2 separate regions of the Homo sapiens genome follow, and region 2 is linked to region 1. Evidence: fine-mapped expression QTL. Tissue or cell type: whole blood. Region 1 holds a variant in brackets; the other region holds the start of a gene. All regions are shown on one strand. Distances are between the middles of the regions.

What was found. PIP is the estimated chance that this variant, and not a neighbour inherited with it, causes the effect.
Region 2: RNASEH2C starts here. The variant in region 1 is fine-mapped to the expression of RNASEH2C in whole blood (INTERVAL, PIP above 0.99).

Annotation. Positions count from the first base shown.
Region 1 is chr11:65,837,103-65,842,102 of GRCh38, forward strand. All of the region lies in intron 1 of SNX32 (sorting nexin 32), which reads left to right. Among named protein-coding and RNA genes, the nearest start is that of SNX32, 5.6 kb to the left of the region's middle. The variant A/C (reference allele first, on the strand shown) is at 2,452.
Region 2 is chr11:65,717,848-65,723,094 of GRCh38, forward strand. It overlaps RNASEH2C (ribonuclease H2 subunit C), which reads right to left and starts at 2,951. Exons shown (of 4, transcript NM_032193.4): 1 at 2,740-2,951; 2 at 2,395-2,570; 3 at 2,198-2,317; 4 at 1-1,962. The coding sequence starts at 2,911. The coding sequence ends at 1,936. It overlaps KAT5 (lysine acetyltransferase 5), which reads left to right. Exons shown (of 13, transcript NM_182710.3): 11 at 743-902; 12 at 1,026-1,107; 13 at 1,200-1,757. The coding sequence ends at 1,334. RefSeq lists a silencer at 2,637-2,876 and an enhancer at 3,027-3,096.

The sequences.
Region 1 (5,000 bases):
AAAATACTATTTAAATAATCCAAAAGAGGACAAGAAAGAAAGAATACAGGAATAAAAACAGATGGGACAAAGAGAAAGCAAAAAGCAAGATGACAAGTTGGTAGCCTGCTACATCAGTAATTACAATGATTATGAATGGACTAAATTCTCCAATTTAAAAAAATATTGTCAGATTGTATTTTGGAAAAAAAACAACTAGAGTTTGTTAAAAGAGACATATTTTAAATATAAGGACACAGAAGGGTTGACATAAATGGGTGGGAGCTGGGCATAGTGATGCACACCTGTGGTCCCAGCTATGTGGGAGGCAGAGGTAGGAGGATTGCTTGAGCTCAGGATTGTTTGAGGTTACAGTGAGCTGTGATTGTGTCACTGCACTCCAACCTGGGACACAGAGTAAGACCTTGTCTTTAAAACAAAACAAAACCAAAAAAGGGCCAGGCACAGTGGCTCACACCTGTAATCCCAGCATTTTGGGAGGTCAAGGTGGGCAGATCACTTGAGGTCAGGAGTTCGAGACCAGCCTGGCCAACAGAGCGGACCCCCATCTCTACTAAAAATACAAAAATTAGCTGGGCATGGTGCCACACATCTGTAATCCCCACTACTCAGGAGGCTGAGGCAGGAGAATGGCTTGAGCCCGGGAGATGGAGGTTCCAGTGAGCCAAGATCTCGCCACTGTACTCCATCCTGGGCAACAGGGCAAGACTCTCTCAAAAAAAAAAAAAAAAAAAACGAAGAAGAAGAAGTATATTAGAAATAAAGAAGGATGGCTGGGTGCGGTGGCTCACGCCTGTAATGCCAGCACTTTGAGAGGCCAAGGTGGGTAGATCACCTGAGGTCAGGAGTTTGAGACCAGCCTGGCCAACATGGTGAAACCCCGTCTCTACTAAAAATACAAAAATTAGCCAGGTGTACTGGCAGGCACCTGTAATCCCAGCTACTCGGGAGGCTGAGGTAGGAGAATCACTTGAACCTGGGAGGCGGAGGTTGCAGTGAGCCAAGATCATGCCATTTCACTCCAGCCTGGGTGACGGGAGTGAAACTCTGTCAAAAAAAGAAAGAAAGAAGGAAAGAAAGAAGGAAGGAAGGAAGGAAGAAAAGAAGGAAGGAAGGAAGGAAGGAGAAATAAAGAGGGACATTTTATAATGATGAAAGACTTGATTCCACAGAAAGGTAAAACAATCCTAAATTTATAGGCACCTAATAATATAGCATCAAAATATGCAAAATAAAAGATGACAGAACTAAAAGGAGTAATAGGCAAACCTACAATTAAATAGTAAGTAATTGTATTTATTTTTTAGAAATGGGGTCTTTTTATGTTGGCCAAGCTGGTCTCCAACTCCTGAGCTCAAGTGATCCTCCCACCTCAGCCTTCCAAAGTGCTGGAATTATAGGCATGAGTCACCATGCCCAGACCAGTTAGAAATTCTAACACAATTCTCAACAACTGTTAGAACAAGCAGACAAAAAAATTAGTAAGGATTTAGAAGATTTAAATAACATGATTAATCAACTTGATCTAATTGACTTATGTAGAGCTCTATACCCAACAACTGCAGAAAATACATTATTTCAAATGCACATGAAACATTTACCAAAATAAATGAAATGTTGAGCTATAATGCAAGTATCAATAAATTTTAAAAGACGAAATCATAGATTATATACTCTGACCCAGAATTAATGTGGAATCAAAACAAAAACATAACTAGATTCCAAAATATTGGAAATTAAGCAACATGCTTCTAGATAACTCTTAGGCCAAAGAAGAAATTATAATGGAAATTAGAAAATATTTTTAAATTTATGATTACAAAAATATGACATATCGAAACTCATAAGATACACAGTTTCCAGAGGGAGATTTATACCACCACATGCATATTTTAGAAAAGAAGAAAGCCTTGAGTATATGACACTAAAGAAAATAAGTAATTATTATTATTATTATTATTTTTGAGAGGGAGTCTCACTTCATTGCCCAGGCTGGAGTGCAGTGGCATAATCTCAGCTCACTGCGACTTCCGCCTGCCAGGTTTAAGCAATTCTCCTGCCTCAGTCTCCCGAGTAGCTGGGACTACAGCTGTGCCCCACCACGCCCAGCTAATTTTTTTGTATTTTTTTTTTTTTTTTTTTTTTGAGACGGAGTCTCGCTCTGTCGCCCAGGCTGGAGTGCAGTGGCGGGATCTCGGCTCACTGCAAGCTCCGCCTCCCGGGTTCACGCCATTCTCCCGCCTCAGCCTCCCAAGTAGCTGGGACTACAGGCGCCCGCCACTACGCCCGGCTAATTTTTTGTATTTTTAGTAGAGACGGGGTTTCACCGTTTTAGCCGGGATGGTCTCGATCTCCTGACCTCGTGATCCGCCCGCCTCGGCCTCCCAAAGTGCTGGGATTACAGGCATTTTTTTGTATTTTTAGTAGAGACGATGTTTCACCATGTTGGCC[A/C]GGCTGGTCTTGAACTCCTGACCTCAGGTGATCCACTCGCCTCGGCCTCCCAAAGTGCTGGGATTATAGCATGAGCCACCGCACACCGGCTGGAAAATAAGTAACTAAAAAAATTTTTTTTGTGAACCATGATCACACCACTGCACTCTAGCCTGGGTGACACAGTGAGACCCTGTCCCAAAAAAAAAAAAAAAAATTATCAAGCTGAATAAGCAATATATAAAAGGATAATACTTCATGAACAAGGCCTTCTTCCAGGAATGCAAGGTGGTTTAACATTTGCAAATCAATCAATGAAATTCAGCATATAAACAGATAACAAAGGCCGGGCGCGGTGGCTCACGCCTGTAATCCCAGCACTTTGGGAGGCCGAGGTGGGCGGATCACCTGAGGTCAGGAGTTCGAGACCAGCCTCAACATGGAGAAACCCCGTCTCTACTAAAAATACAAAATTAGCCGGGCATGGTAGTGCATGCCTGTAATCCCAGCTACTCAGGAGGCTGAGGTAGGAGAATTGCTTGAACCTGGGAGGCGGAGGTTGTGGTGAGCCAAGATCGCGCCAGTGCACTCCAGCCTGGGCAACAAGAGTGAAACTCTGTCTCCAAAAAAATAAATAAATAAATAAACAGATAACAAGAACATCCATATGATTATCTCAATCAAAGGAAAAAGATTGATAAAAATCAACACTCTCATCAAATTAGGGATAGCGGGGAGCTCCATTAAGCTTCATTAAGATACCCTTGATTAAAAAAAATATCTAAAATCACTTTGGGGTTAAATTTAAATGCAGTCCCTCTGAGATTAGGAACATGTCATCATATCATCACTTCCACATTGTACTGGAGGTCTTGGCAAGTATAATAAGGCAGTAAAAAGAAATAAAGGTATAAAGGTTGGAAAGGAAGAACTAAAACTGTCATCATTTTAGATTATAGGACTGTATATGCAGGAAATCCAAAAGAACTGGCCAGGAAGGTGGCTCAGGCCTGTAATCTCTGCACTTTGGGAGGCCTAATTTAGGAGATCTCTTGAGCCCAGGAGTTCGAGACCAACCTGGGCAACATAGTGAGAACCTATCTCTACAAAAAAATACAAAAATTAGCCAGGCATGGTGGCAGATGCCTGTAGTCCCAGCTACTCAGGAGGCTGAAGTGGGAGGATCCCTTGAGCCTGGGAGTTCAAGGCTGCCATGAGCCAAGATGGCACTACCACACTCCATCCTGGATGACAGAGCAAGACCCTGTCTCAAAAAAAAAAAAAGAATCTACAAACGATTAAATTAATAAGTGAGTTCAGCAAGATATTTTAAAAAATTATTAAAATTAACAAGTAAATTTGTGGGGACCAAGGTAAATATATAAAAATCTATTATGGTTTTTTTTTCTTTCTTTCTTTCTTTTTTTTCTGAGATGGAGTTTCACTCTTGTCACCCAGGCTGGAGTGCAATGGTGCGATCTTGTTTCACCGCCACCTCTGCCTCCGGGTTCAAGGGATTTTCCTGCCTCAGCCTCCTGAGTAGCTGGGATTACAAGCGCCCCCCACCACACCTGGCTAATTTTTGTATTTTTAGCAGAGACGGGGTTTTACCATGTTGACCAGCCTGGTCCTCGAACTCCTGAGCTCAGGTGATCCACCCGCCTCGGCCTCCCAAAGTGCATGAGCCACCTCGCCTGGACTTTTTTTTTTTTTTGAGACAGTGTCCTGCACTGTCATCCAGGCTGGAGTGCAGTGGTATGATGGTGTGATCATGGCTCACAGCAGCCTCGACCTTCTGGGCTCAAGCGATCCTCCTGCCTCAGACTCCCAAGTAGCTGGGACTACCTGTGTTTGCCACCACACCTGGCTAATTTTTGTATTTTTTTGTAGACATAGGGTTTCGCCATGTTGCCCTGGTTGGCCTTGAACTCCTTGGCTCAAATGATTCTCCTGCCTCAGCCTTCCAAAGTGCTGGGTTCACAGGCATGAGCCACTATGCCCAGTCTATTGTGTTTCTATATACAATTAGAAGATGAAACTTTTTAAAATATAATTTAAAAAGCAAAGAAAGGGCGCCTATAATCCCAGCTGCTTGGGGGGCTGAGGCAGGAGAATCGCTTGAACCCAGGAGGCAGAGATTGCAGTGAGCCGAGATTGCGCCATCGCACTCCAGCCTGGGCAACAAGAACAAGACTCTGTCTCAAAAAATAAAAAATAAAATAAAATAAAAATAAAAAGCAAAGAAAAAGAGAATCATCAAATACCTAGGAATAAATCTCACAGAAGACATGCAAGACCTTTACACAGAAAACTACAAAACATTAAAGAAGACCTAAATAATTGGAAAGATATTACCTGTTTTTAGATTGGAAGATTAAAAATTATAAATTATAAAATTACAAAGAGATCTAGTCTTCCAAGATTGATCTATATATTTGATATAATCACAATCAAAATCCCAGTACATTTTTGAGGGGTAGAAATTAACAAGCAGAATATCTGTAGAAATGTAAAGGACCTATAATAGCCAAAATTATTTTGAAAAGAAAGAATAAAGTTGGAGGCTTTGC
Region 2 (5,247 bases), 120 kb before region 1:
GGGTGAGGAAGGGCTTCTAGAAGTAACAAACATCCCAGGTCCCTGACTGGGGAGAATGAAGACACTGACCAAGAGATGTGAAGCCACTCAGGGCTGTGCAGGGTCTGAGGATCTCACTGGGGACGGCCTCCCAGCGGCCAGCTATCAGCACGAGTTGGAGGGAAAGAGCCATGGTGGGGGTCAGTCACGTGGCTCCCAGGAATGGTCTCCCCGACTTAGGAAGCACCTTGGTGCACCTTTTCTCCTTGCATCCTCACAACCACCCAGTCAGGCCACTCAAGTCTTACAGCAGGTGACACTCCCAAGGTCCCAGCTAGGAGGACTTTGAGAATTCAAGCATTCTCAGGTCTGGATTAGAGACAGGAATCTGTCTCCACTTCCTTACATGGCTAGACACAGAGCCCGGGATGGCAAAGGAAAATTGGAGGCCCCTTCTTCCCATGAGCCATTTTCTCTGCATCCCCTGCCCATAAGCCTTCACTGGCCTCTGATCACCCTCATGGTTGACTGCAGCTGCTCCTCTCAGTGCCCTCATGCCCTCCACTGTGCTCAGCGCACGGAAAGAGTGAATACTCAGTTCTTCCTGAGGGAACTGAGGCACAGAGAAGTGGAGGGCATAGAACTGCCAAGTGGCAGGGCCATGATAGGAACTAGGCAGCCTGCCTTGGCAACCTGTGTTTTTAAATGTTGCTTATGTTCATCTGTGACCTCTTACTCACCCTCTCCTGCTCCATTGCTTTAGGCTATGAACTCTCCAAAGTGGAAGGGAAAACAGGGACCCCTGAGAAGCCCCTCTCAGACCTTGGCCTCCTATCCTATCGAAGCTACTGGTCCCAGACCATCCTGGAGATCCTGATGGGGCTGAAGTCGGAGAGCGGGGAGAGGCCACAGATCACCATCAAGTGAGCCTGGCGCTGTCTACCTGGGGGTACATGGCATGGCTTGTCTGTTCCTGGGCTTTCTCTCTCAGGGCTCCTGGGGACAGATAAAGGTCCTCAGGGAACCTGACCTGTGCTCTCCCACAGTGAGATTAGTGAAATCACCAGCATCAAGAAGGAGGATGTCATCTCCACTCTGCAGTACCTCAATCTCATCAACTACTACAAGGTAGGGAGGCAGGCAGGGGAGACAGGTGTGTGGGATGCAGAGTGCAGTCCTCTGTGGGCTGACCACCTGCTGAACCCATCTCCTCTGCCCAGGGCCAGTACATCCTCACACTGTCAGAGGACATCGTGGATGGCCATGAGCGGGCCATGCTCAAGCGGCTCCTGCGGATCGACTCCAAGTGTCTGCACTTCACTCCCAAGGACTGGAGCAAGAGGGGGAAGTGGTGACCAGACACTGCCCACTGCAGTGCCAAGACGGCAGCAGGACTGGGGCTGATAGCCCACCCCGCCCCCACTGCAGCTCCCACAAAGCACTCTAAGGGAGATGGGGCTGAGGACAGCTCAAAAAGGAGAGGACAGGCCTGGCAGGGGCCCACTGGTGCCCAGCACCAAGGCGAGCTCCGGGCTCAGACCAACTCCAAGGTCAGCTGGCCACAGGCCCAGGCCTCCTCTGAAGCAGGGACCAGAGGGAGCCAGGCAGCTGTGTACAGTGAGAAGGGATCCGGATGGGGGAGCTCTGTACAGAGGGCTGGTGATTGTAAAAATTTCTTTTGTAAAGTAGAAGTTGGGGGTGGGGTGGGTGCTGGCTGCAAAAATTTCTGGCTTCTCTTACCCCTATTGCCCCCGGCAATAAATTGTTTCTATATGCCAGAGCCATGCAAAGTTCTTGGTGGGGAGGGGGAAAGGGCCCATGCTGGCTTAGGGGCTCTAAGGCGCCCAGACTCACAGGTGCTGTGAAGAGCTCCTTTATTGGGGTGATGGAATCGGTTCCAAAGAGCTGGTTTACTGCTGTGAAGGGATCGCAGCTTTGAATTTCAAGCTCTGGTTCTCAGTCCTCGGGCACCTGTGCGTGAATCTGCAACAGGAGTCGCCTCTACTGTTGGACTTGTAAGACAGGGCGGCAAGCTGGCCCCCATACCCGAGGAAGGACCCAGCTGTTCAGAATAACCGCTTCTAGACATGCTAGGAAGAGTGGTCAGGGAGCTACGCTTCCCACACACTACCCAGTAGAATCCTCCAGGCTCCGTCTGCGCAATTGTGCTCCCCAGCCCATCCACCCGGGGGCAAGACGGAACTCCTCGTCTACTCACCGCTGCCGCAAGGCTGGGCCAAGTTAAGGCCCCACGCACTTTGGCATCCGGGCCAGGGATGGTCTCCAGACCCCACAGGGTGAAGCGGCTGAAGTTGGCAGTGGCTCCAATGAAGCGGTCCTGGGGAAGGGGCCTGGCTCAGCATCGGGACTACAGCTCCCGCCCGCACCCCCTTTCAACCCTATCCCTTTGCTCACGAAGTCCCGCTCCAGCGGCTCCTCCTCTTGGTCGTCAGTCCCGGAATCCCGCAAGGGGTCTGGCTTCCCCATCGACACCTTCTTCTCTTCTGTCACCATCACGTATCCCACGAGGCCAGGCGGCACCGCCACCTCCTCTCCCCGTAGACAGCGGCCCCGAAACGACACTTCGAGTCCTGGAGCGGGAGGCGCAAAGGGCCTCAGGCAGGACCCACGCTGGGTCGAGCCCGGAGCTGCCCTCCCGCCACCTCCGGACGGACCACGATCCCCAGGAGCCCAGGCGATGAGAAGCGCGCAGGCCGGCGCGGGGGCTGCCGGGAGCCGTAGTCCGGCCGCAGGGCTCACCCTCGGGGCCCTGGCGGATGGCGGGCGTGAAGAAGCGCCCCACCGGGGCGGGCCCGTCCACCGCAACCTCGCAGGGCAGCAGATGCAGTGTGGCGGGTACGGCGTCGCGCAATGTGGCGGAGCGCAAGTGGACGCGGTGCCTCTCGATGGCCGCTTCGTCGCCGCTCTCCATCCTCCCTCCTACGCGACGCCAGGGCTCGCGAGCTGACACTGAAGCTGGCGCGGAAAGCGCGCAGGACCTCTCAGGAAGCCTCCGCGGGGCCTCACGGGAAGCCGCCGCGGAGCTTCACGGGAAGTGTAGTCCCCTTACCCCCTAACGCTTTCCCTGGGTTCAAGTCCTAGGGTTTTCCAGTTGTGTTTTGTTTTTTTCCTTCCTTCCTTCCCCCCTCCCCTCTTTCCTCCCTCCCCTCTCCCCCTCTCCTTCCCCCTCCCCCCTCCTTCCCCCTCCCCCCTCCCCCTCCTCCCTGCCTCCCTTCCTTCCCCCCTTCCCTTCCCTTCCTTCCCGTCCTTCCCTCTTTCTTTCTTTTTCTTATTTATTATTATTTTTTTTTGACAGAGTCTCGTTTTGTCGCCCAGGCTGGAGTGCCAGGCACGGTCTCAGCTCACTGCAACCTCCGCCTCCCGGGTTCAAGCGATTCTCCTGCCTCAGCCTCCGGAGTAGCTGGGATTACAGGCGCACACCACCATGCCCACCTAATTTTTGTATTTTTAGTAGAGACTGGGTTTCGCCATGTTGGCCAGGCTGGTCTCGAACTCCTGACCTCAGGCGATCCTCCAGCCTCGGCCTTCTGAAGTACTTGGATTACAGGCGTGAGACACCGCCCCCAGCCGGGTTTTTTTCTTTTATTGTTTTTAATGGCACATGTCGTTGTAAAAATCTAAAACGATTCTGAAAAGTACTCTTTTTATATTGATTAGTAGGTAGGTTATTCATTTTTAGTTTATTAGGGACATCAACCCTTTTCTTAAATGCATTGAAAATGTTTTATCTGTGGTCTGTCTTGCAAACCTGTGTAAAGGTGATTTTTGCTGGACAAGGACTTATTTTTGTGGTTGTTTGGTCTTTTAGACAAGGTCTCACTCGCCTAGGCTGGAGTGCAGTGGTTTGATTGGCTCACTGCAGCCTCGACCTCCCAGGCTTAATCCATCCCCCATCCTCAGCTTCCTGTGTAGCTGGAACCACAGGCCTGCGCCACCACGCAGCTAATTTTTGTATTTTTGGTAGAGGTGGAGTTTTGCCATGTTGCCCAGGCTGGTCTTGAACTCCTGGACTCAAGTGATCTGCCCACCTTGGCCTCCCAAATCACGCTGGAATTACAGGCGTGAGCCACTGCACCCAGGACAAAGACTAATTTTTTGTAGTCAAATTTATCAACACTTTTCAGTCTTTTAGATTTCACAATTTTCTCTCTTTGGTTTCTCAGCTCTTCTCTAATGTTTATTTGTTCAGACACCCAACTTAGATATATTTTTTCAAGTTCTCACATAAAACAAACACAAAACTGGAAATTTAGATTTAAATTGCGTTTAATTTATACATCCCTGCACATCTGGGAGCTGGCCTTGGTATTCTGTTGAATATAAACAATTTCAGAGAACATCAGCATCGGACAAGGTCACTCTGTGACCGTGAGGGAGCAAGACAGAAACAGAACCACTCCATCGTCACATCTGAATGCTGGCAAAGGTGAACACTGTCCAAACCACAAAAGGCATGAAACATCCCTCTTTCTCCCATAAGAGAGTGACTGTTGTTTCCTTACCAATTACAGCATTAGCCTCCAACTAATCTTCTCTCCTTCTGGGCAAGACTCATTAAGATAGTCCGTCATAGACATACCCCCACCTCTGACAGCATCCAAGCCAGAGAGAAGCCTGGCTTCCCTAAACCCTGACTGAAATCACTGAACATGGGCACAAATCCTCCTATAAGTCCTTTCTAGCACCCTCTTATTGAAATTCCCCAGAGTGCAGGAGTAATATACCCAATTTGTTCAACTGCAGATGTATTCCTGGTGCTCTTTCACTAGAGTGGCAGATTAATTTAGAAAAAGGCTTGCTTTAGTTTTCTATCAGGAAAGACATAATTCAATTTATTCACATCTCCTTGGATATCTGTACAGTTGTGAGGTTTTGTTCATATATAATAGCTATTAATACATATTGTAAAGTTTATTTCTTCTTAGCTTATATTAATAATTGTTTCTATTAAGAACTGAGGGGCTGGGCATGATGATTCACACCTGTAATTCCAGTGCTTTAGGAGGCCAAGATGGGGGAGGATTGCTTGAAGCCAGGAGTTTGAGACCGGCCTGGGAAACATAGCAAGACTCCGTTCCTACAAAGAAAAAAATTTTTTTAAACATGAGTGGGGCACAGTGGCATGTGCCTGTAGTCCCAGCTACTCAAGAAGCTAAGGTGGGAAGATCACTTAAGCCAAGGAGTTTGAGGCTGCCGTTCGAGTCACGATTGCACCACTGCACACCAGCCTGGGTTACGGAGGGAGAC